Homo sapiens: one gene and its partners. The protein of the gene in region 2 interacts with the protein of the main gene of each other region in a pairwise test. Each region holds a gene or a part of one and is shown on either strand. Other genes may lie near its edges.

Region 1 (3,500 bases), on a different chromosome or scaffold from region 2:
GTTGCAGTGAGCTGAGATCACGCCACTGCACTCCACCGTGGGCGACAGAGCGAGATGTCTTGAAAAAAAAAAAAATTGTAGCCACCCTCAACTGCTATTTCTTTTATATATCACATCCAGTCCATCAGCAAATCCTGTTGGCTCCTTTCCAAATACATCCAGAAGCCAACCACTTCTCACCTTTCCATTGCTTCACCTTGGGTTCAAGCCACCAACTTCTCTTGTTTAGACTATTGTAGTAGCCTCCTAACCAGTTTCTCTCCTTCCATTTTTGCCCCGTTATAGCTTATTCTCAACACAGCAGCCACAATGACCTTTTCAATATGTCAGGCCATGTTATTTATCTGCCTAGAATTCTCTAATGGCTACCATCTCACTCACAACTCACACTACAAGCCAGTGGCCTGTGTGATCTGCCCCCAATTCACCCCCACCGCAACATCTGCCATTTCTTCTCTCACTAATATACTGCAGCCGTATTGGCTGGCTTCCTCATGTTTCTTGAATATATAGGGCACATTCCTGCCTCAGGGCCTTTGTGTTTGCTGTTCTTCCTGACTGGAATAAATTTCCCCTAGATGTATGCTTGACTTACCCCCTAACTTCCTTCAGGTCTTTGCTCAAATGTTACCTTTTTAGTGGGAACCTCTTCAACTACCCTATTTAAAATTTTAACACCCAGAATCCTGGCATTTTCTTCTTCTTCTTCTTCTTTTTTTTTTTTTTTTGAGACAGAGTCTCGCTCTGTCGCCCAGGCTGGAGTGCAGCAGCGTGATCTCAGCTCACTGCAACCTCTGCCTCCTGGGTTGAAGTGATTCTCGTGCCTCAGCCTCCCGAGTAGCTGGGATTACAGGTGCCTGCCACCACGCCTGGCTAATTTTTGTATTTTTAGTAGAGCTGGGGTTTCGCCATGTTGGCCAGGCTGGTCTCAAACTCCTGGCCTCATGTTATCTACCCAACCCAGCCTCCCAAAGTGCTGGGATTACAGGTGTGTGCCACTGCACCTGGCCTACTCCTGGCACTTTCTATCTCCCTTCTCTGCTTAATTTTCTCAATATATATTTTACTTATTTGTTTATTGTCTGTCTCTACCCTGTCCATTCCTCAAACAGTGAGCTCACTGCTCTATTCCCAGTACCTAGAAAAGTACCTGGCACACAGCAGATATTCACCAAATATTTGTGGGATGAATGAATCAGTGAATGAATGAATATATATACCTTTAGGATCTCCCAGTAACTTGAAACCTTTAGGCAAGAAGGGGAAGACCCTAGTAGAGCTCTGGTCTCTCTCCAGCCCTCAGTCCCTCTTTCCTCCTTACTGCCTCACCCTCTTCTCAGGTCCAGTCCAGCCCTATTCCACCAGAAACCATACCTAAGCTGAGAAGCAGTGCAACAGGTGCTTGATGCCAGGATGTTACAATTCCCAGGCCACTAGGTACAGAATTCTGCAGGGTGCTAATTTTTAAATTTAGCATCCTGATATCTCACAAACAGAAGAGGTCAGAGAAAGGTTAGGACTAAATATACTACTTAACCTAGATAACAGTACTGATTCAGAAACAGTAGCTCATTTGCTCTGAGGTGTTTTCCAAGGAACAGTGCTAAATTTGCACTTGTTCACCTAGCTGCCCCTGCCTTTAATCTTTTTATAATGGATTTCCAACATACACAAAAATGGAAAGAATGGTATAATGAACCTCTTGAACCCATTATCCAACTTCAAAAATTACCAACATTTTGCCTCCTTGGTTTCCTCTGTTCCTTAATCGTCTCTGCAACCCACACTAAATATTTCAAACTAGCTGTTTTCTTGAGAACAGATTTATATAAGACAGCCCCTGATGCTGTTACCACTGTATTTGAGCAACTGCGTCAAACAACCTATCTTACCAGAAATACAGTAGAAAAAGAAAAGCACTTACACCCATTCCCCCACCCGAGCAATGACTAAAAAAGGAAGTGTCTAAATTACCGACGTTTAAATCAAGGGACATGCCCATTATCATGTTTGGAGAACTTTGGGGAGGGGTGTTGTGTCCACAAAATGAATGTAGACATGAACTGCTTTTACTTTTGTACACCTGATGCAGAATTTCTGAGTGAGTTAATTTAATCCAACAGGTAAGTACTGACTACCTGCTAAATGTGAGGGAAGAGATGAAGACAGAAGATAAAGAAAACCAGCCAGGTGCAGTGGCTCATGCCTGTAATCCTAGCACTTTGGGAGGCTGAGGCGAGTGGATCACCTGAGGTCAGGAGTTAGAGATCAGTCTGGCCAACATGGTGAAACCCTGTCTCTACTAAAAATACAAAAATTAGCTGGGCATGGTTGCAGGCGCCTGTAACACCAGCTACTTGGGAGGCTGAGGTGTGAGAATCACTTGAACTCAGGAGGAGGAGGTTGCAGTGAGCCAAGACTGCACCACTGCACTCCAGCCTGGGTGACAGAGTAAGACTCCATCTCGAAAAGAAAAGAAAAAAGAAAACCTAGTCTCTGTTCTCACAGAGCTCACAGAGTGGGGTTGAGAAAAGTACACAAATAACTCAAATACAAGGCAGAATAAGTTCTGTGCCCTAAGTAAACAAATCTAAGGCAAGAACTCCTTTTTAAAATCCACCCACAGCAGTTGTAGAACCCAGGGTATACCCTTTCCTCAACTCTAGTTTTAGTTTCTGCTGTATTTATTGCTGCACAGCCAATAAGTACATTATAAGAGACCTGGGAATTTGGTGACCCACAGAATAGACTTTTGGATGTGGATCTTTGATGTCACATTTTGCTACTGACTCTTCAGACTTCAGTGGTTGGGGATTATCAAGTTTTCCCAGGGCTTGGAAAACAATGGGGCTAATTCAGTGCCTGCAGAAGCTGACACCCAAAGCATTCTACTCTGAGGGCATATACAGCAAGCAGCTTCATAACAGGATAGGATAGTGGGAGGGTGTCCAGGAGACACAGCTAGATTGATTCTGAAGGACTTCAAAGGGCTCTCTCCCTGCCCTCTAAAAAACCAAGATCCTTTGGTGATCTATTATCAGAAGTCATCAGAAGTTCCCAGAGAAGAGTGTAGTTCTCTGGATAAACCGAAGAGACTGATGAAGTTTGGTGGAACAGTGCAGCATATGAAGGAAGCAGAGCTGAAAGCAGCAGGGGCATACGCATGGCCCTGGAGATAGATGCACAAGAGAGTGGAGGAAGAAAGGAGCAGACCTGAGATGGAAGGGAGATTTATATTGTAATCAATTATCAAGATTGGTGAGGTGAGGATGGCTGAGGGGACAAATAAGAGGAAGGCAGGAAGAGGAGGCCCTGTGGAAGGGTGAAAGACAATCCGGGTTTGAAAAGGTGAGGGAGGAATCTGAGAGGCAGGATCTCACAGGATACTGGGCAAGGGTATGAGAGGAGAGGCCTTAGAATGGGAGGGTGTGCAAGTTATACAGGATTGCTTCATGCTGGGATGGAAGGAGCCGATTCCATTGAAGCTAGTCACATCAAGA
Region 2 (3,500 bases):
AAGTGTAGATATTTTATACCAAGGAATTAGTGTTAATTTTTGAAAATTTGTAATAATAAAAGCAGGAAATGTAGATTAAAATGAAAAAATAAATAAAGAACAAAGTTTGTAAAAGTACTGCAGTTAACTGCTCTTATCTTTGGGAAATACTGAAATACCTACAGGTGAAATTACACAGGACTTGCAATTTGTTTCAAAATAATATAGAAGTGGGAGAAGTGGATGGATGAGGACTGATCACTGTTGATAGTTACTGGGCTACATGATGGAAACTTTTAGGTTCATTATACTATTGTGTCTACTTACCTTATTTGAAACTCTCCATAATTTATAGTGCTCTCAAAATAAAAAGGAAAGTTCAAAATTTATTCAAATACTGTATAATAAAGGAGGAAAAAACAAAACAAGTATATATATAAAATCATTTTTTCATTAGCTTTCATAATAATTTTAAAGTTGGCTTCCCAAACTAGCATTTTAGTTATGACAAAAAAAATCACATTTATCTTTTAAGAAGCATTCTATGTTTATAAATGCAAATGTAATTAATAGCCCAAGGGCAAAATTACTCAAATGGTCAATCAGGCTACACAATTTTCCCATTTTTATTATAATAGATCACAAATGAATTCCCACTAATTCCACAATACTTTTTTTTTTTTTTTTTTGAGATGCAGTCTCGCTCTGTCGCCCAGGCTGGAGTGCAGTGGCACAATCTCGGCTCACTGCAACATCTGTCTCCTGAATAGCTGGGATTACAGGCGCCTGCCACCACACCCAGCTAATTTTTTGTATTTTTAGTAGAGATGGGGTTTTGCCATGTTGACCAGGCTTGTCTCGAACTCCTGACCTCAAGTAACTGTCTGCCTCAACCTCCCAAGTGCTGGGACTACAGGTGTGAGCCACCATGCCCGGCCTAATTCCACAACACTTCAATGTACAACCTGACATGTGTAGAGATGTTAGTTATTGCAGTGTGTTATGTTGACAGTTTTCAGAAAATGTTCTGAACTTATGAGCTAATATTATATTTAATTACAAATAATTATTTGTAATAATACAATGAGCTAATATTTAATTACAAATATTTATTTGTAATTAAATATTTATTTAAATTAACAGAACACCGCATGTTCTCACTCATAAGTGGGAGATGAACAATGAGAACACACGGACACAGGGAGGGGAATATCACACACCAGGGCCTGTGGGGGAGTGGCGGGCTAGGGGAGGGATAGCATTAGGAGAAATACCTAAGGTAGATGATGGGTTGACCGGTGCAGCAAACCACCATGGCACGTGTATACCTATGTAACAAACCTGCACATTCTGCACATGTATCCCAGAACTTAAAAGTATAATTTTTTAAAAAAATCATTTTCCAAATTTCTTTTTCTCAATAATGGAAGCTTCATTTTACATATTCTCTTAAGAATATATGCCAACTAAACATTCAACAGGTGCTGAAATACGCACTGACTAAATAAATAAACAAGAGTCTTTAGAGAAGGAATGAATAGCAAAGCGGTAAAGAGTGGAGACAGTTATTCAGGCTACATTTTTGCTGAAAAAGATAGAAATGAAACAGTAAATACTTTGCGAGAGTATCAAAACTGGAGAAATTGAAGTTTGAGAAAACCTGAGCATTTTAACAGACTAACTTCAGAAAACCTTCCTTCTAGTTCAGATTCTGTCACTGACAAGCTGTGTGAACTGACGCAAGTCATTTAATCTCTCTAAGGTTCAGTTTTGACATCTATAATGGTAGTGATATTATCTCCCCTGCCTACATTTGAGAAAATCAAATGGCATATCAATGTAAAAATGTATACATTGTAAAGCACAACATAAATGTATGATTTTATAAAGATCTAAGAAAGAAAAAAATGTAATGGGGGAAATAGCAAAAGCATACTGAGGGGTTTGTCTTACAAATCAGAAGGTATCTTTATTTATCTTAGGTAAAAGGAAAGAAAGGGAAAACTAGTCTTTATGAGGCATGTAGTTCAAATATGATTCTTTTCCCCACAGGGAATTGATACAAATTTGCTTATTGTTTTTTCAAACTTATTTTGGTTTTTCTTTTATACTTTATCCTTATCTGACAACCAGATGCTCCCAAACAAATATTCAATACTATTACTTTTATCTGGGCATATCAAATTACAATTCACTTATTTAAGTGGTTCTAAGCTATCATCTATATGCTCCTTTATGCTCATAGGGCATTCTCACATTCTTGAATAGTTTCTTCATACTAAGCTGTCAATTCATATACTTATTTGTGTATGTATCCATACCCCTCAGAGGAATTTCATCAACTGCCATTATGATTATATTTACAATCCTACTGTTAACGACAAGCATCAAATCTTTCATGAACTTGAACTATTTGAATAATTTTCATTCTTTTTCCTCTAAGTAATATCAGTTTACGGCTATAGTTATCTAATTTCGTGTTGCCCTATATTCTAAGATAAATCAGATTACTTTTTCCACTTTTCTCTAACCATGACTATGTACGATGTAAGCTTATAAAACTACCTCATTTAGTGGTAAGTTGAAAAGGAAAGCAGAAGGGAAAATAGAGATAGCAAGTTAATGCTCCCAGTTGTATAAATATCTTCCTCTTCCTTCCTTTGTCCCTTCATTTCTCAATGTTCATTTCAATTTCTACTGCTAGAGCAGCTTCAAAACATCCTAACATTCTTCAACTGATCATCCATCACCAAACACAGCACAGTACTTACCTGGCCCGATGTTAAAGCTATAAAATGAGGTAAGCCCTACTCTCGAAGCACTTGTAGACTAGAGGAAGAGACCACCTTGCCAATAAACATGTTTCTAGGGCCCTAGAAACAATTACAAATACAACACAAATATCAAAGTTCATAAATACCAAAAAAGAGGTACTCAGTATTATAAAAGCATAAAATTTTTAAAAAGAGTACCATCTGGTACAACTAAGGATAGTAGCATAAAAAAGGAGAAACAAGCTAGAAAGCAGTTTACAAAAGCTCAGATATTTTGTTTTTAGGATATCAAATGCGTAGTAACCAATTTACTATCCTTTGATGAACTGCATCTTAATCAGAATTATATCGGAAAAAAGTTTAGTGTGAAAAAGCGTACTCCCTTGGAATATCTTCAAAGCTTTCCCTCATTACCTCAATGCACAAATATCTCTACCCACTATCCATCTGTCCTTCCTCTCCACTACTCAACTATCCTAGCACTTTGTCTTAGTTGACATTCATTAAAATATGTAAAGTGCGTTCTACATTTTGAAGAACTTATAAAAGATATGGGAATGATTATAAGGCCCTACCTTCCATATTCCTTAAGAACAGTTTCCTTTAACCCCTACTGTGACTTGCAGAGTAGATGCTCAATGAGTATTTGATTTAAAAAAATCTCTGGTGACACAATGAGAATTACATATTACATTAACATTACGTATCTCATAAAAGCTAAATTACAAAGTTCTTCAGCATTATAAG
Region 3 (3,500 bases), on a different chromosome or scaffold from region 2:
GAGTGCGGCACAGACAGCTTCAGCTGTGACTTGTTGATAGTGTGTTTTGTTTGTTTTTGTTTTTGAGATGGAGTTTCACTCTTCTCGGCCAGGGTAGAGTGCAATAAGGCAATCTCAGCTCACTCCAACTTTCACCTCCTGGGTTCAAGTGATTCTCCTGCCTCAGCCTCCCGAGTAGCTGGGGTTACAGGCACGTGCCCCCACACCCAGCTCATTTTTTAATTTATGGTAGAGACGGGGTTTCACCATGTTGGCCAGGCTGGTCTCAAACTTCCTGACCTCAGGTGATCCACCCGCCTCAGCCTTCCAAAGTGCTGGGATTACAACTGTGAGCTACCACGCCCGGCCTATTTGCAGTTTTTCTAATATTCTGAATAAATAAATCAGACCTAACATAGCTGTGGGGTAATGTTGAGATCCGACTGGACTCAATATTATTCCCCATACTTTTCTGTGTGTTTGAAATATTTCTTTTTTAAACGACATGTTGTTCTTCCTAAGCACCGTTAATGAATCAAAGGACTGCTAAAAAAATGCTACAAGTGAAAAAAAAAAAAGAAAGAAAGAAAGAAAGTGTTAAAACTGTAGATCCGCCAAAAACTTCCAGAGTTTGTTTCATTAACAGCATGTAGGTATTGGATAGGTATCTTAGGAGTGAGGGTGATGAACACATTATGTAATAAAGATCGCTGTTTCTCTGTATTGGTTTATCAAAACCAAATAGTCTTCTCATTCCCAAAGAACCCTGATTCTCCGTAATGAGCTTGGAAGAGAGTTTGAAGGAGTGATCCCTTATCCAACACACAGAGAGCTTTCCCACTTGTCAGAGAGCAGAGATAACATAGGGTGAAAAAAAGATAGGTTCTTGGGTAGAGAGCTTTGTACATTTCAGGAATATAAAGGGGACATATGTATTTACTTGCTCTTCTACTCTGACAACATAATTATAAGACAAGGTCAGAATGTCCAAACCGTCTCCAATAGACCTATTACTCGCCAACTAAACAGGCCAGATTCTACAATCTCCCGCAATCACTATAAGAGACCTGAAAAGCCAGTGCTTGAGTATCTGCCAAGTTTTGACAGTAAAGGAGTGTCTTTATACTGAAAATATTTCAGAGCCACTGGACCAAATCATCCATGGTTCATCACACATTTAACAGCTTAATTCACATACCATAAGATTCACCCATTTGAAGTGTACAATGATTTTCAGTTGTTGCACATCTTGAGTGGATACAGTTCAGATTCCTAACCAATCAATTTAATTATTTGGGAAAAAGTAAAAGATATGTAATGGAATAAGATGAGACTGTGATGGGGTGTAGTCCCCATGTGATAAACCATGAGATGGAAAATTCTGAATTGATGCCACAGATAAATGCACCAACCATGACTAAACATAATTCAGAAGCAAATCTGAAATAACTCCTCAACAATGAGTGGACTCATAACCCTCTGCTGCAGAATACCCTGATGCGACAGAAGTCTCTCTAGAGTTTGGAAACCTTTACCAACAAAGAAAAATTCTGATGTATTCTCTTTCAGTTGAACGTCCTCAGATGACTTTCGGCAGGCTCCAGGGAATCTCCCCGAAGGTGAGTGTCTCTCAGATCTAAAGGACCAGAGAACCTTTGTCCCTCCACGGATGCGAACACTGGTAAGAGTGGGAGAATATCAAAAATGCCCTCACTGCCTTCTTCTCCCCATGTCTATCACAACACCTGATGTCGCACCGACGGCTTGATAGTACCAACAGTTGCGATTGTTAATACTTCTTTTGTTTTCATAGTGATGCCAGATACTATTTCAAGCAGTTCACATGGATTAATTTATTTAATCCTTAAGAAGACATTGTTTCTATTATCTCCAAATAATAATGAGTCACACACTTCAGTTTTCATCCATATGAAAGCCATGTGACTTGACACAAATCTTCTAAGTTCTCTGAGCTCCAGATTCCTGGTCCATGAAATGGAAGTAAAGAATTATAGTTCATGTTTTAGATCATAGTTATCAGCAACATAATAATAAAATGAGGCTATCGTGGTACAGAGATGTTAAAGAATTTTCCTGGGGCGCAGTGGCAGTGGTAGTCTAATCCAGAGCTCCAAGCCATTTAAAGCTCATTCACATTTGCATTTGTCTATGAAGTTCAGATGTTGCTCACTAGGGCTTCACCCCATAGGGCCTGCTGGTGCTTCCAATGAGACACCCACTCTCTCAACAGGAAGGACCATCTGGTCTCTGCTGTGTTGCTGGGGCCACTTGCATGGCTTAGGAATCACTTTGATTGTTGGCCCCTCCCTACTGTGAGCTCCTTGAGTGCCTTGTCTGCACCTGGGGCATCTGGGAAGGCCCAGTCCCAGCCCAGGGGATCCCTCGGAGGCCCCTGAATGAGTGATCCCACAAGTGCAGATTCAACTCTGGTTTGGAGGGTAAAGGGATCTGGGAGTTGGGTTGCCAGTGTGGAGACTGAATTCAAAGAAGGATTGTGAAAGGTATTAATTGTTATTATTACGACATTTAAACAGTGTTTACAAGCTCAGAGAGGACTTTACTGTAGGCTATTTGACATGTATGGTTCACTATTTCATAAGGGAGGAAGCTGAATGAAAAGTAGCTTAAGAGCCGGGCGCGGTGGCTCACGACTGTAATCCCAGCACTTTGGGAGGCTGAGGCGGGCAGATCACGAGGTCAAGAGATCGAGACCATCCTGCCCAACATGGTGAAACCGTGTCTCTACTAAAAATACAAAACTTAGCGGGGCGTGGTAGTGCCTGCCTGTAGTCCCAGATACTCTGGAGGCTAAGGAAGGAGAATCGCTTAAACGCGGGAGTCGGATGTTGCCTTGAGCCGATATCATGCCACGGCACCCCAGTCTGGCGACACAGTGAGACTCCGTCTCAAAAAAAAAAAAAAAAAAAAAAAAAAAGAAAGAAAGAAAGAAAAAAAAAAGTAGCTTAAGATTGTTGGTCAGTGACACATCCCAATGCAACCAGAATTGGTATGGGTACCACCTCACTGAATTCCACATTGAATGTCGGTGCCCCAGTAGGGTAGTATGTCATATCTGGTACTGCTTTGTTTGCTGCCTAGATTAATTTCGGCAAACCATTTCTTTCCCTCTCCCTTCCCTGTATTCATCTCCCCACACCATCTTTCCCAGCAGTGTTTTGTCGCCTCCCTATGTTTTTACATTTACTCTCCCAGCAGCTGTCTAGAAGCTTATATGGGATCCCTTGTATTTTACAGAACCTCTTCCCTTTGTAGACCTTGTGAATTCTTAGAATGCTACTCTTCTCCAAATCATCTGTATATCACACTCTCAATTACATGGAGATTTTTGCTGTTTGCAAGAATGTCAGTCCTAAAAGAGTGGGAAGATAAGCATTCTATCCCTGGAAACCATATTCACTTAGGCCATTCCTTTCCCTTCTAACCTCCCCTCCCAGGTTTCTCCTAATTTAGGCCTGTGTAACTCTCCCAGTGTTGTTGAG
Region 4 (3,500 bases), on a different chromosome or scaffold from region 2:
GTGTGGTAACCGGGAAACAGGCTCTCGGTCATGGGGCCCACATACGTCCGCAGCAGCTGCAGCCACTGGTCCTCGTACCCCACCTGCTTCATGTGGATGTCCACGGTGGGCACATTCTCGTAGCCTCCAGCCAGCCTTGAATCCTGGGGGCGGCGGGCACTGAGCCACCCGCCCCTCCAGCCATGGCGCTCCCCACCCCAGGGCAGTCCAGCCTCCTTCCTCCCGTCCTCCAGCCTTCACACCTGTGTTCCTCTGTGCAGAACAGTCTTCTTTGCTACTTCTCGGCCTGACTCACTGCTCCCGGCCCTTCAAGTCTCAGCTAAGATGTCACCTGTCCTGTGAAGCTCCCTACTCCTCCCAAGTCTGGGTCAAGGCTTCCCCGTGGCTTCTATTGCACCCAGGCTGCTCATCGCAGCCTTAGAAGCTGTGTGGTGGCTGCTGCTCACAGCAGGGCAGAGCTCGACCGGCATGAGGCATTCCTGCAGTGCAGTCTAGGACAGTGGCCCAGGAATGATTTCCTTTTCTCTTTTTTTAGAGACAGAGTCTTGCTCTGTCACCCAGGCTGGAGTACTGCGGCATGATCATAGCTCACTGCAGCCTCTAACTCTGGGGCTCAAGTGATCCTTCTGCCTCAGCCTCCTGAATAGCTGGGACATGCCACCATGCCCGGCTAATTTGTTGGTTTTTCTGAGATGGAGTTTCACTCTTGTTGCCCAGCCTGGAGTTCAATCTTGGCTCACTGCAACCTCTGCCTCCCGGGTTCAAGCAATTCTACCTCAGCTCCCGAGTAGCTGGGACTACAGGCGCCCGCCACCATGCCCGGCTAATTTTGTGTTTTTAGTAGAGATGGGGTTTCTCCATGTTGGTCAGGCTGGTCTCGAACTCCTGACCCCAGGTGATCCACCTGCCTCGGCCTCCCAAAGTGCTGGGATTACAGGCGTGAGCCACCGCACCTGGCCCAAACTCGGCTAATTTTTAAATTTTTTGTAGAGACAGGGTCTCGCTATGTTGCCCAGGCTGGCCTCAAACTCCCCCTGCTCGAGCAATCCTCCCGCCTCAGCCTCCCAAAGTGCTAGGATTACAGGCATGAGCCACTGTGCCCAGCAGTAAATATTTCTTGAATACATGAATGAATGCAGTTGTGACCCCAGGGTCTGCCTCCCCCCTGGGAACCCCTCTTTGCTCCCATTTTCCTGATTCCATTGTTTGTTTACCAGATCCTGCACCTCCTCCTCTGGGAAGGCCTCTGCCCTCCTCGCCCAGGCCCTTACCTCATGCCGGCCGCCTGACCACTGGCCGTAGTGCTCCATCTCTGCCACCAGCTCATCACACATTTGTTCTGACAGCAGTGGGAACCAGTACACGTCCGGGCATGGCTGAGGATGGGGCGAGGGAGAACAGGGCTAGCTGACGCCGCAGAACGGGGAAGGGGACAGGCAGCAGGCAGAATGGGAAGGGGCAGGGAGGAGCAGGGAAGGCTTTGTGAGAGCAGCCGGGGACCCGCCAGGTAGGGGCTGAGGGAGTGGCAAGGCTGAGGACCGGTTTCTGGCACAGGAGAGGTGGCAGAGGGTCCTGGAGCCCCTCGTGCTGGGACAGTGGTTTCCAAACTTCCGTAACAGTGCATACCTCTTTTTTTTTTTTTTGAGATAGGGTATTGCTCTGTCAACCAGGCTGGAGTGCAGTGGCACAATCATAGCTCACTACAGCCTCGACCTTCTGGGCTCAAGCGATCCTCCCGCCTCAGACTCCCAAGTAGCTGGAACTACAGGCACATGCCACCATGCCAAGCTAATTTTTTCTTTTCTTTTTTTTTTGAGACAGGGTCTCGCTGTGTCACCCAAGGTGGAGTGCAGTGGCGTGATCTTGGCTCACTGCAACCTCTGCCTCCCAGGTTCAAGCGATTCTCCCACCTCAGCCTCCCGAGTAGCTGGGACTACAGGTGCACGCCATCACACCTGACTAATTTTTGTGTTTTTTTTTTTTTTTTTTTTGGTAGAGACAGGATTTGCCATGTTGGCCAGGCTGGTCTCGAACTCCTGACCTCAGGTGATCTGCCTGCCTCGGCCTCTCAATGTACTGGGATTACAAGCATGAGCACCACTCCTGGCCTCATTTCTTATTTAATTTTTTTGTTGTTGTTGTAGAGACAGATTCTCGCTATGTTGCCCAGGCTGGTCTTGGACTTCTGGCCTCAACCGATCCACCCACCTTGGCCTCCCAAAGTGCTGGGATTACAGGCATGAGCCACTGAGCCCAGCCCCATTCTTCTTTTAAGATGTGATTTCAAGCATAACACCAGTATACCCAATATACAGGAGAAGAGGCTGTCTGATCAATGCTGGCTTTGGGGGCAAGAGTCCTTTCTGTTCGGCCTCTGCCTTCATCTTGTCTGAACAGAAAACCCTCAGATCTCTGGGGAACTCAGTGTGAAAACTTTGAATCCAGGCGGGGGCCCCCAAGAGGCGATGGCCATGAGGGCAGGGGGTGGGTGGGGAGGCTGCGTGGGCTCACCTGCTCCACGATTCCTTCCCCTTCCAGGGCCCGGCTGTAGTTCTCGTGGATGTACTGCTCCTTCCAGTCCTGTGAGAGGGTGGGGGGCACATCAGATCTGTGCCCCCCTCGCTCCCAGCCCCCAGGGGACCGCCCCCTCCCACTCAGTGTCCTGCGCTGGCAGCAGCCATCACGTTTGGTGTCTTCCTTAGCACAAGGCGGGGAACCTGTGTGCTCTGGGCGTGGGGTCCCCACTCACGACGGGGTTGTCGAAGATCTGCCAGAGGTCGGGGTGCAGGTGCTCCGTGTCGTATCTGGAAGTGGCCAGGAGCCGGCCAAATTCATGCTGATTGCTCAGATGGAGGAAGATGCCCTGTAGTGGGGTGGGGGTGTCCGTGATGCAGGCGATGCCTGGAGTCTGGGGGACTGCCCCCAGGCCAGACCGTGCACCCGCGCTCACCTTGTCTCGAAAGCTCTTACAGAAGGCCATGTCCGGGTCTGTGTCACTGCCCGAGAACACATCCCTCTGGGGCAGCTCCATCCGCAGGGTATCACCCCGGATCACATAGGCCTGGGAGATGTATGGTACATTCCACACACCCCTGGAGGCACCGACACCGCGGTCAGCTGGGAGGACAGCCCCCCAAATTCTGCCCAGCTCATCCCGGGAAGTCCTTCTTCCCTCAGGGTATCCCAGTCCCTGAACATAAGGCCCCTGCATGTCCCTTGTCAAGCACTGCTGGTCCCAACCACCCCACCTCCCAAAATGCGGTCAGTTCCTACCCCAAGCTGTGGCACTTCTTTTTTGTTTCTTGTTTTTGGTTTTTGAGACGGAGTCTTGCTCTGTCACCCAGGCTGGAATGCAGTGGTGTGATCTTGGCTCACTGCAACCTCCACCTCCCAGGTTCAAGCAATTCTCCCACCTTAGCCTCCCAAATAGCTGGGATTAGAGGTGCCAGCCACCATGCCCGGCTGATTTTTGTATTTTTGGTAGAGATGGGGTTTCACCA
Region 5 (3,500 bases), on a different chromosome or scaffold from region 2:
TGATCTCATCACCCCTAGCCGGAATCTGCTCTGACCCTGCCTCCTCGACAGCTCAGAGGCTTAACTTGTGGAAAGTGTGGCAGAGCTAAACGTAGCCGACTTTTTCCAGTGGGTGCGAAAAATAACCGCCACTAAGGTGTGTCTTCTTGATGCTTGTACCGCTCAGAAATAGACTGAGGTTGTGTTTGTTTTTGCTCAAACTTTCCTAAAGAGGAAACCCGCTCCCCAAAGTTGACCAGATAGATGTATCATCTTTCCGGATGTGAATTATTTCGGCTGTGTGCTATGAGAACTGGGTATGGTGGGAAGTAATTGTTTTTCTGGCTCTCATCAGGTCCTGGTTCCTGGTTGCTTTTCTTTACCCGAGAGGGCCACAAAAGATACCACTCTCCTGAGACTTCCAAGTTCCCCTTCAGCAAGACCCTCATTCCTCTGGGGAGAGAGGGAGAGTTGGCCATGTTATATTCGAAAGAGCCTGGGTATTGGAATTGGCCATATTTAGTGGTGAGAGCCTGTGATACTTATTTAACCTTTCTGGGCCTTGTTTCACTCACTACATTTTTTTTTTTTTTTTTTTTTGAGACGGAGTCTCGCTCTGTCACCGGGCTGGAGTGCAATGGCGTGATCTCAGCTCACTGCAGTCTCCACCTCCCGGGTTCAAGCGATTCTCCTGCCTCAGCCTCCTGAGTAGCTGGGACTACAGGCACCTGTCACCCCGCCCAGCTAATTTTTTGTATTTTTAGTAGAGACAGGGTTTCACCATGTTGGCCAGAATGGTCTCGATCTCTTGACCTTGCGATCCATCCACCTCGGCCTCCCAAAGTGCTGGGATTACAGCTGTGAGCCACCCCGCCCGGCCTTCACTCACTTCTTAAAATGGAGACGGTCAACAGGGTTGGTGCTGAATTAATGAAGTAAGATCCAGAAATCACTAGAGCTGTGATGGGCACATAGTCACCGCAGCGGTGGAGAACTGACCATCTGTCCCTTGTGTTGTTTAGGCCTCATCTCTGCATGGTCCTCATTGGCTCTGAGTTCTAGTGTGTAGTGTCCACAGTGCCACCCTCCATGAGGGTTGTGTTGACTGTGAGGTGGTGCAGAGAATGTCCCTGTCCTTGTGAGCATATGACAGCAAGACACTGGCCCTGGAATCCTCCGTGTCACATGTGGGCTGCTGACAGGAAGAATGTGCTTTTGTTGTTGTTGTTGTTGTTGAGGCAGAGTCTTACTCTGTCGCCCAGGCTGCAGTGCAGTGGCATGATCTTGGCTCACTGCAACCTCTACTTCCCGGGTTCAAGTGATTCTCCTGCCTCAGCCTCCTGAGCAGCTGGGACTACAGATGTGTACCACCATGCCCGACTAATTTTTGTATTTTTAGTAGAGATGGGGTTTCACCATGTTGGTCAGGCTGGCCTGGAACTCCTGGCCTTAAGTGATCCACCTGTCTCGGCCTCCCATAGTGCTGGGATTATAGGTGTGTGCCACCCTGCTGGGCCGAGAATGTGCTTTTGACTGAGGGTGGAAAGTCAGCAGCTGCAGCCCAAGAAGTTAGAGCCAGGGGCAGTGCCTTTGATGGGAAGCTTGGGGGTCTAAAGAAATCAGAAAGGGGAGAAAATAATCCTGCGTGTGCTCAGCCCTCACTCAGATCAACAGCCCCTCGGGTCCCAGCTAGATGTACTTTGTAGAAGGCTTTTTTTCTCCCCCTCACCCTCAAAACTCCAGGATTAATGTGCTATTCCCTTTTTTCTACTGTTCTCTGTCTCCCCCCAACCCATCAGCAGTCTGAGAAATGCTATGGTGGAAAAAAAAAAACAACAGCCCTATAACCAGTACAAACAAAAAGCCAAGACAAAAAAAAAAAAAAAATCAGAAGGGGAGATTTTGAGGCCAGGAAGCCATGGCATTCACTGGAAATATATCAGTGATAAAATAACAGGCTACAGGGTTTATTTTATTTTATTTTTAAGTCAATAGGCCTGAGTGTTGGTAAAGACTAGATACCCAGCAGTCCTTCTTGCATTTCTTCTTGGGGTGGGGGGGCAGAAGGGAATGGAGAGGAAATGAAGGCGGATTGCTGGTAAGTGAGGCAGGAAGGCAGGGAGTTTATTATGGAATGTCATCGGTAAGTTTCCCCATGATTTGATCCCAAGCTGGTGTGGAGTGAAGGGTAAGCTGTTGGCTCAACAGATAGTGAGAATCAAACTTAGTGGAGTTGTAGAGCCTGTTTCCTGCAGCGGACAGCAAGATGTACAAGCCGTCCACTGCAGGAATGACGTGCTGTAAAAGGGATGCAGTGTCAAGTGTAGTCATGGATGGGTGGGAAGACCAGACAAAGGCATCCAATGGGACTGACTTACCTAAACAAACCAGAAGGAAGTCAGAACAGTGGGAAGATCTGATAGATAAGCAGTATTCTGCAGGCAGATGAAGGAGCAAGCTTTGGGCCCCCAAATCTTCACCAGTGCATCCACATTACAGAGGATAATGCCTGAGGGAGGGGAAGATCATCTCAGGATTCTGGAACACTGGGCCCTCCCTTTCTTATTCCAAAAGGCTGGAGCAGTTCTGCATGTAGGCTTCTCTGGAAATGGTCTAGGAACCAGCTCATCCAGGCCAGGAGCACCTGATCATTCTCAGAGTTACGTACATATGCGATAAGATTGCAGGGAACAGTATAGTTCTATAGACTTAAGTGTGAACATAGTCCTCATTTATAGTCCCTAGTCTCCCATGGCTCACGCAGCTTGGTCTTTATGTGTTTCTGAATTTAGTGCTGCAGAGGCACAATGGGGTCTGGTTTCTGGATCTTATACAGACAAGCACTTAGGTCAGCTGCAGTGGATGTCCTGCACAGACACCGTCGCAACTCTTGCCTGGTTCCTTTTTGTTTTTGGAGATGGAGTCTCGCTCTGTCTCCCAGGCTGGAGTGCAGTGGCGCGATCTCAGCTCACTGCAAGCTCTGCCTCCCAGGTTCACGCTATTCTCCTGCCTCAGCCTCCCAAGTAGTTGGGACTACAGGCACCCGCCACCACGCCCGGCTAATTTTTTGTATTTTTAGTAGAGACAGGGTTTCACCGTGTTAGCCAGTATGGTCTCGATCTCCTGAACTCGTGATCCACCTGCCTCGGCCTCCCAAAGTGCTGGGATTACAGGTGTGAGCCACCACGCCCGGCCTATTGCCTGGTTCTTGAAGGGATTCTCAGGAACCACAGGGAATGTCTGAGCCAGCTTTCTGGATCCGTGTGTACAGCCCTTCCCAGAGGCTTTGTGGAGCCAGCTGTACGGTGCATGAGCTTTGTGGCTAAGATATCAGAGTTCTGCCTGGCCCTTGGCCTTGGTCTCTCTCAGATGGTCAGCTGCTCTGTTTTTAGTGGTTGATCATGTAGAAGGCCAACAGGTGTTGACCTTGGTTTAGGCTACTTTTGGGATTTTTGAGGTTTCCTGAGACTCTTGGTTTTCTTTCATCATCCCGTCCAGAACCTCTGATGTCAAACTAAATT
Region 6 (3,500 bases), on a different chromosome or scaffold from region 2:
CCCAAAGTGCTGGGATTACAGGCGTGAGCCACTGCACCCGGCCTGGTTCATTCTTTAATTCATTCCTTTGGCTCTTCTCAGAGGTGCTCTAAGGGCATCAGTGACCCTCCATTACTAAATACAGTGGATTCTTTCCAGTTCTCTGACCTACTGTTTAATACTCTCCTGCTGACATCATCTTTTCTCTGGTTCCCATGATTTACTCTTCCCATTTTCTTTCTTTTTTTTTTTGAGACCGAGTCTCGCTCTGTCACCAGGTTGGAGTGCAGTAGTGCAAACTCGGCTCACTGCAACCTCCGCCTCCTGGGTTCAAGAGATTCTCGTGCCTCAGCTTCCCAAGCAGCTGGGATTATAGGCAAGCGCACCACCATGCCAAGCTAATTTTTATATTTTTAGTAGAGACGGGGTTTCACCATGTTGGCCAGGATGGTCTCAATCTCCTGACCTCATGATCTGCCCGCCTCGGCCTCCCAAAGTGCTGGGATTACAGGTGTGAGCCACTGCGCCCGGCCAACTCTTCCCATTTTCTGACTACCTCTCTTGCCAGTGTGTCTCAGACTCTGACAGTCCTTCCTATGAGTGTCCCCACCTACTCCTCAGGGCTCATCCTCAATCCTTGTTTTCTGCTCACATTTGCTTTGCTTGGGCTACTGCAATCGCCTCTTGCCACCCTCAACCCATTCAGGGCACAACAGCCAGAGTCATGTTTTCAACACATACATCTCAGCATGCTGCTCCCCTGCTTAAAACTACTAAATGGTTCTCTACGCCCTTAAGAGGAAGTCCAAAATCCTTTCCTCGGCCTATGAGGAGCCGCACACTCTGGGGCCTGCCCACCCCGCCAGCCTCACATGCTCCCTCTTACTTGCTCTGTTCCACTCACACCCTCTATTCCTTGAAGGCCCTCTTTCTACTCCTTGAAGTCAGGCTGTCTTCTGCCTCGAAATCCCTCCCACATATCCCTTTCTTCCTTTAGTACTAAGTTGAAACATCAGTTCCTCAGGGATACCTGCCCAGTCTCTCCAGGATAAGTGAGATCTTTCTGTCACATCAACACTTACGTCAACTACAATAAGTACTTTGTCCAACTGTATTTAAGGTATTTCTACCCTCACTGAACGATAAACTCTGTAGTATCAGGGACCGTACCCTCACATCAGTCATTGCTCAGATTCCCAATTCCTAGTGCAGGACATGGTAGATGGCCAGTAAATATTGGCTGAGTTCATGAACAGGAAACTGCATCCACTCCCAAGGCTTCCCTCTCTATCTTTTTGCCAATTACTTTAGGATCTATGTTTCTAGTTAGATCTCACTACTGATTTGAGCCCCACTTCCAGTTGGTTTAAGTTCCACTTAAAATGTCTTCAAGAAAGTACATTTTGAAAGTACTCAAGAAAGTTGAGTATGTTTTAAGTAGAACTTAAACCCACTGGAAATGGGTCCCCAAACCCAATCTAGTTCCTACTCCTGTATTCCTGGTGAACAGTAATACTGTCTACACCACTGCCCAAGTCAGAAACCTGTATTTTCCTAGACCTGGCACCTTCACTACCAGACCCCCACCCAACCCTGTGACCACAAGCCACAGACATACATTTTACATCCTTATTTTTTTTTAAAAAACAAAAGAACCGTGCACCTACTTTTCCTTGACATCGTTAATACTTTAGTCCAAGCACCATTGTTTCTGGTCTGGTTACTATGACAGCCATTCAGAACATGCAGCCATGCACGTGTTATTCCTTTCCCTATCAATCCCCTTTCTTTTTTGCAGAGAGAAAATTCTCTCAATTACAAACCTGATGTGTCACTCTCTTTAGAACCTGCCAACTAACTCCCCATTGCCTTAGGATGGCTGAAAAATCCTTCACTCACCTCTTTCTTTCCCACATCCATCTCCGACCACCTCATTCTCCAGACAGAAGCCCTAGTCAATTACAATGCTCGCCTTTTCAGGCTCCACTTGGACATCACTTCTGGGAAGCTTTCTGTGACCTATCCAAGGTGCACCTCCCACAGATCTTCTAACGATGTTTGCCACAGCACTTTTTATACATCTACACTGCAACGGGTTATTTCTTTGTCAAACTTTCTCACTAGGCTGTGAGTTCTTTATAGTGAGGGAGTTTCTTATTAATCTTTCTATTCCCAGTGCCTAACACAGTGTCTGGCACACAGAAGAAACTCAAATATTTGTTGAGTAAGTATACGAGAAAAAGAAACAGGAGATACGAGTCAACAGAATGCTGCTATCATCTAAGCATGAAGCCAGGAAGGCCTAGTCTAATAGTGAATGTAGGCCCTAGAAACATGACCGAAGCAAAAGACAATTCAATTCAATGACCATGGACCAAACACCCGTTCTGTACCGGGACTAAAATGAGACATAGTCCTGGCCCTCAAATGGTGGATGATTTGGCAGGGAAGATCTGATATAAACAAGACCATAAAGTGCGACAAGTTCTAGAGTAATGGCAAGAATGGTGCTTTGTAAATCCTGAACATAAATCAACTAATTTTGCTGGAGGTGAGGAAGGGCAGGTGGTTCTACAATAGGTGGTGACCTATGCACTGAACTGTGCAGGCTGTGTAGGATTTTGCGGTCCAGGGAAGAGAAATGGTAGTATTCTGAAGAGGGAAATGGATGAGGAAAGGGGACACAAAAGTGCATGATATGTTCAAGGCATTAGAATATAAGCTGGGTCTGTTCTTCAGCTATGTTTCCAATGCTTAGAACAGTGCCTAGCTCATAACAGGTGCTCAGTACATCTTAGCTAAATGAAATGATCTATAAATATTTCAATTTCAGAAAATAGGATATATGACAAGAGATGAGGCTGGAAAGGTGGCGGGTGGCCAGATGATAAAGAACCTTGGTCCTATGCTAACATGTCTCAGATGAGACTGTTAAATAGGGAACCATGAAAAGGTCTAAAGCAAGGCTTGAATGCAATCAGAGCTAGGTTTAAGAAACAACTATAATGGCACGGTAGACTATGGTATTGAGACAGTATCTTTCATGAGCTAAGTGAAGGTGGTCACACAAGAAAAGGACAAGGTCATAAGATCCTTCACCTACTCTGAATTTGTAAAAGAAAGAGAAAGAGAAGAAAAAAGGCAGAGGTATGCTAAAGTAATGCTGGCTTAGAGATTCAATATCTGTGCCAGACAGAAGAAATGGGGGATGTATGTGGGGTACTGAGGACATAAGAGAGCAAAGGAAGGTCACTTATTCCGAAGCAAGAAAAGGGATGAACTGATGAGAAAGACTAAGAAGAAACTAAACAGCAAAAATGATCTGAAACTGAACTACAACACTCAGGATTCCACACAAGAATCTTGGTAGCTCCCTTAATGTAAGCACAGACCCGTAAGTAACTATTACTAATTCTCTCTGTGAAAGCACAGCAGGAATGAACAGGAAAGGACAGAGAGATAGAGATAACATAATATGATAACCCATTAGATTTAGAGAGTAAAAAGAAACGAAGAATTAA
Region 7 (2,886 bases), on a different chromosome or scaffold from region 2:
GACTTGCTGGCATGGCCCTTTCAGAAAGGAGGTTATGTTGAAATGATTCTTAGATTCAGCCACTGCATTTTATAATGCTGGCTTATGTGTGAAAAATGAGCGACTCGGGTATTTATGGCAAAGGCTACAGACCACTGGTCAATCATCAAGAGTCGCGGTGTGGGAAGCCCCACAGTCTATGGCGTGGGGTCTGTTACTTCACGGCCTTGTTACTCAGACAGCAAGGCCTGAAAACCTGCACTGAAACATGGATACTAACTACAAAGCGGGCGAAGAAGAATGCCTTCCCTTTGAGAGAGGATCTCTTTTGCTTCTCCAAACAAACAACTCAAAGGGACATAAAAACCACATTGTTGAGAAGATGAGAGCAGAGTGAGTTATCGTGGTTGAGGCACAGTTCCCTTGGGATCTGCCCCCATACTGAGAGCTCCCATAAGCATCCATCCAAGTACCCACCGAATACTTGCTGCAGATATTCCGTTCAGCAGTGCAGTCTACTTCGGCGATCTTGACCCCCGCCAGACCAGGGAATTCCTTTTTAGAGAGTTCCTCCCAAGTAGGAGCCAGAGTCTTACAATGACCACACCTAAGACGAGAAAAATGGCAGCTTCGTTGAAATCCTGGGTCGAGATCATTCACCTACACTCTGCTGCCAAGACAAGCTCTGTTTCTTCTGTATGGGACAGTCAACAATTGCCTAGAAATTTGTAAAATACCAAATTCTCCCACTGGGTGCACATTAACTCTTCCTCCTCCTATCCCAAATGAAGAACCCAAAAGTTGATCCAAGGTAGACTTTCAGATAATGTGACAGAAGCAAGCCAGTCTCAAAACAAGTTGAGATTCTGAGACCATTTCCATGCCATGGTGAACTGTGCTAACTGGTTTATGAAAGCACAGGAGCAGAGGAACAGGGAACAGGGCAGATGCCACACAATTTCTAAAAGGTCACTTGAATGCCAAAGACATTTTAGATTTGATTGCTTATGGTCTCACAATTTCAAAACCATTTTAAGGCCTCCTTGGTACTTCAGCGATGTGGGGTGAGCATCAAGGCCATGATTAAGTTTGGTTCAAACCCTCCCTTCTACCCGACTCTGTTCCCTTGTCTCTTCTGACCCCCTCCTGCCGTATGGATGGCTCCCCTTCAGCCAAAGGGGATCCTCCTTTTTGATACTTGATCTGTGGAGCTTTAGGTTTTTAAATGTTGCAAATGATTTGAAAGGCATTGCTATGGTTCGTTCAAGTCCTGTGCTTATTAACTTTTTACCCCTATGGTTAGTTTCTCAGGAACATGTGGAGTGTAACAAACAAGAAAAGTGACGCCTTTATCATGTTTAGATAAACAATCTACTGTTGTCCTAACACTCTGCTTTTCCAAATGGATTGTTTTATTTGTGAAGACAAAAAGTTACTCCCATTTTTCAGCTGAGGGAACTGGGGTTCAAAGGAATTAAAGGACATCCAAGTTTACTATACAGTCATTCACGGTAAGTCTTAGAACCAAGGTTGTCTGGATCTCACACTACCTGCAATCCATTTCTGCTCTGGTCTCCAAGACCACGTGGCATGCAGGTTCAGGAAACTGCGTAGCATACTGAATGGCTCTAACAGACTCTACTGGATTTCTCTACAAAAGAAATCCGAGTACTTAAAAGAACCGAGGAGCAAAGCTACATCATGACACTCATTGTTTAGCCAAAAAGAAAAGCCATCTATTTGGAAAAGTGCAGATACCACAAAACTGAATATGGCCATCATAATTTGCCTCCATTTTTATGTTTTCTCCAAAGTTGATATAACTTTAGCCTCATTCTCCATATATAATCAAAGTTGATATAACTGTAGCCTCATTCTCCATATATAATTAAGGCCATTGAAGTTTAAAATATTTGAATATAGGAGCATGATAACGGTTCCTTATTTCCTACAACATGACCTACATATAAATGTAACATGTGCCCAACATTGAGTCTGGAGGGGTGGCAGATGAGCTGAAAAACATGATGTGACTTAGTACACATGGACAAAGTAGTTTCTAATTAAACAGCCACTTACCATGGAGCATAAAACTTGATGAAGGTTATTCCTTCTGCAATGGTGTCATCGAAGTTATTTTCAGTGAGTGCCAACACAGTGCCCTTCAAGGGAGGAAAAAGCCACAGTTCAAGTACATCCCTTAAAGTTGAGCAGGGCCATGCTTTGGGATTGCAGATACACGAATCAGTAATTTTTTAAAAATGCAGTTACGTAGGCTCCAAGGTCACACAGAAATACCTACACAATCTGCATTTCATAGGCTACACACAAAGGGAGGCTGGCAGCCTCTGAAGGGCAGAGAGATCAATGCAAGTCCCTGGGTCCCAAGCCTGGGAGATGTGGTGAGGAGGTGGCTGGACACTGTACAGGGGATGAAGGTGGGGAGGGGGACTGTCTTTTGGGGATGAGGCAGGTTGAAAACTCTCCAGGGCGCTGTGGTGTGGACCAGGCAGCCCTGGGTGTCTGACACTTGAGTCTGCACCTCTAAGCCTGGAGTCTCCAGGATACCCACTGAAGTCTCATCCTCAGCCGCTTTTCTCACTGGCCACCCTATTCTCCTAGCACCCTTTGTGACATCCTCTCTATGCAACAGAAAGAACCTAGTTACAATAGCAAAGGCAATGATACCTGTTTTACATTGAACATAAAAATGGAAAGCAGCCTGTTCTAAGTCAATGTGAAAAACGCTGATGGAAGCTCTGGCTGGAGAATTTAAGGGAAAGGTGCTACATGGTAGTCTGCTTTAAAGCCATTCTCCCTTGACAGTTCTTTACAGAATGACGTCTATGTGTTTCTCCAAAAATGGATCTGCGATTCTCTCCTGAGAGCAGGAATGGGATGATTTAT

Evidence for each region.
Region 1: the proteins of RAB3IP (region 2) and ZNF76 interact in binary tests that used the Homo sapiens proteins (3 or more experiments, as listed by UniProt).
Region 3: the proteins of RAB3IP (region 2) and SSX2 interact in binary tests that used the Homo sapiens proteins (3 or more experiments, as listed by UniProt).
Region 4: the proteins of RAB3IP (region 2) and PLOD3 interact in binary tests that used the Homo sapiens proteins (3 or more experiments, as listed by UniProt).
Region 5: the proteins of RAB3IP (region 2) and ZBTB16 interact in binary tests that used the Homo sapiens proteins (3 or more experiments, as listed by UniProt).
Region 6: the proteins of RAB3IP (region 2) and SUV39H2 interact in a two-hybrid assay, tested with the Homo sapiens proteins (one large-scale study listed by BioGRID and IntAct).
Region 7: the proteins of RAB3IP (region 2) and TXNDC5 interact in a two-hybrid assay, tested with the Homo sapiens proteins (one large-scale study listed by BioGRID).

What each region holds. Positions count from the first base shown.
Region 1 is NC_000006.12:35,262,735-35,266,234, reverse strand, and holds part of ZNF76 (zinc finger protein 76), read right to left. Parts: intron 1-3,500. UniProt on the Homo sapiens protein: May be involved in transcriptional regulation.
Region 2 is NC_000012.12:69,741,860-69,745,359, reverse strand, and holds part of RAB3IP (rab-3A-interacting protein isoform alpha 1), read right to left. Parts: intron 1-3,500. UniProt on the Homo sapiens protein: Guanine nucleotide exchange factor (GEF) which may activate RAB8A and RAB8B. Promotes the exchange of GDP to GTP, converting inactive GDP-bound Rab proteins into their active GTP-bound form.
Region 3 is NC_000023.11:52,700,679-52,704,178, reverse strand, and holds part of SSX2 (protein SSX2), read left to right. Parts: intron 1-1,548; coding exon 1,549-1,598; intron 1,599-3,500.
Region 4 is NC_000007.14:101,207,582-101,211,081, forward strand, and holds part of PLOD3 (multifunctional procollagen lysine hydroxylase and glycosyltransferase LH3 precursor), read right to left. Parts: intron 3,093-3,500; coding exon 2,951-3,092; intron 2,864-2,950; coding exon 2,750-2,863; intron 2,581-2,749; coding exon 2,512-2,580; intron 1,377-2,511; coding exon 1,272-1,376; intron 144-1,271; coding exon 1-143. UniProt on the Homo sapiens protein: Multifunctional enzyme that catalyzes a series of essential post-translational modifications on Lys residues in procollagen. Plays a redundant role in catalyzing the formation of hydroxylysine residues in -Xaa-Lys-Gly- sequences in collagens.
Region 5 is NC_000011.10:114,066,211-114,069,710, forward strand, and holds part of ZBTB16 (zinc finger and BTB domain-containing protein 16), read left to right. Parts: intron 1-3,500. UniProt on the Homo sapiens protein: Acts as a transcriptional repressor. Transcriptional repression may be mediated through recruitment of histone deacetylases to target promoters. May play a role in myeloid maturation and in the development and/or maintenance of other differentiated tissues.
Region 6 is NC_000010.11:14,885,366-14,888,865, reverse strand, and holds part of SUV39H2 (histone-lysine N-methyltransferase SUV39H2), read right to left. Parts: intron 1-3,500. UniProt on the Homo sapiens protein: Histone methyltransferase that specifically trimethylates 'Lys-9' of histone H3 using monomethylated H3 'Lys-9' as substrate.
Region 7 is NC_000006.12:7,883,903-7,886,788, forward strand, and holds part of TXNDC5 (thioredoxin domain-containing protein 5 isoform 1 precursor), read right to left. Parts: intron 2,142-2,886; coding exon 2,059-2,141; intron 587-2,058; coding exon 457-586; intron 1-456. UniProt on the Homo sapiens protein: Protein disulfide isomerase of the endoplasmic reticulum lumen involved in the formation of disulfide bonds in proteins. Can reduce insulin disulfide bonds.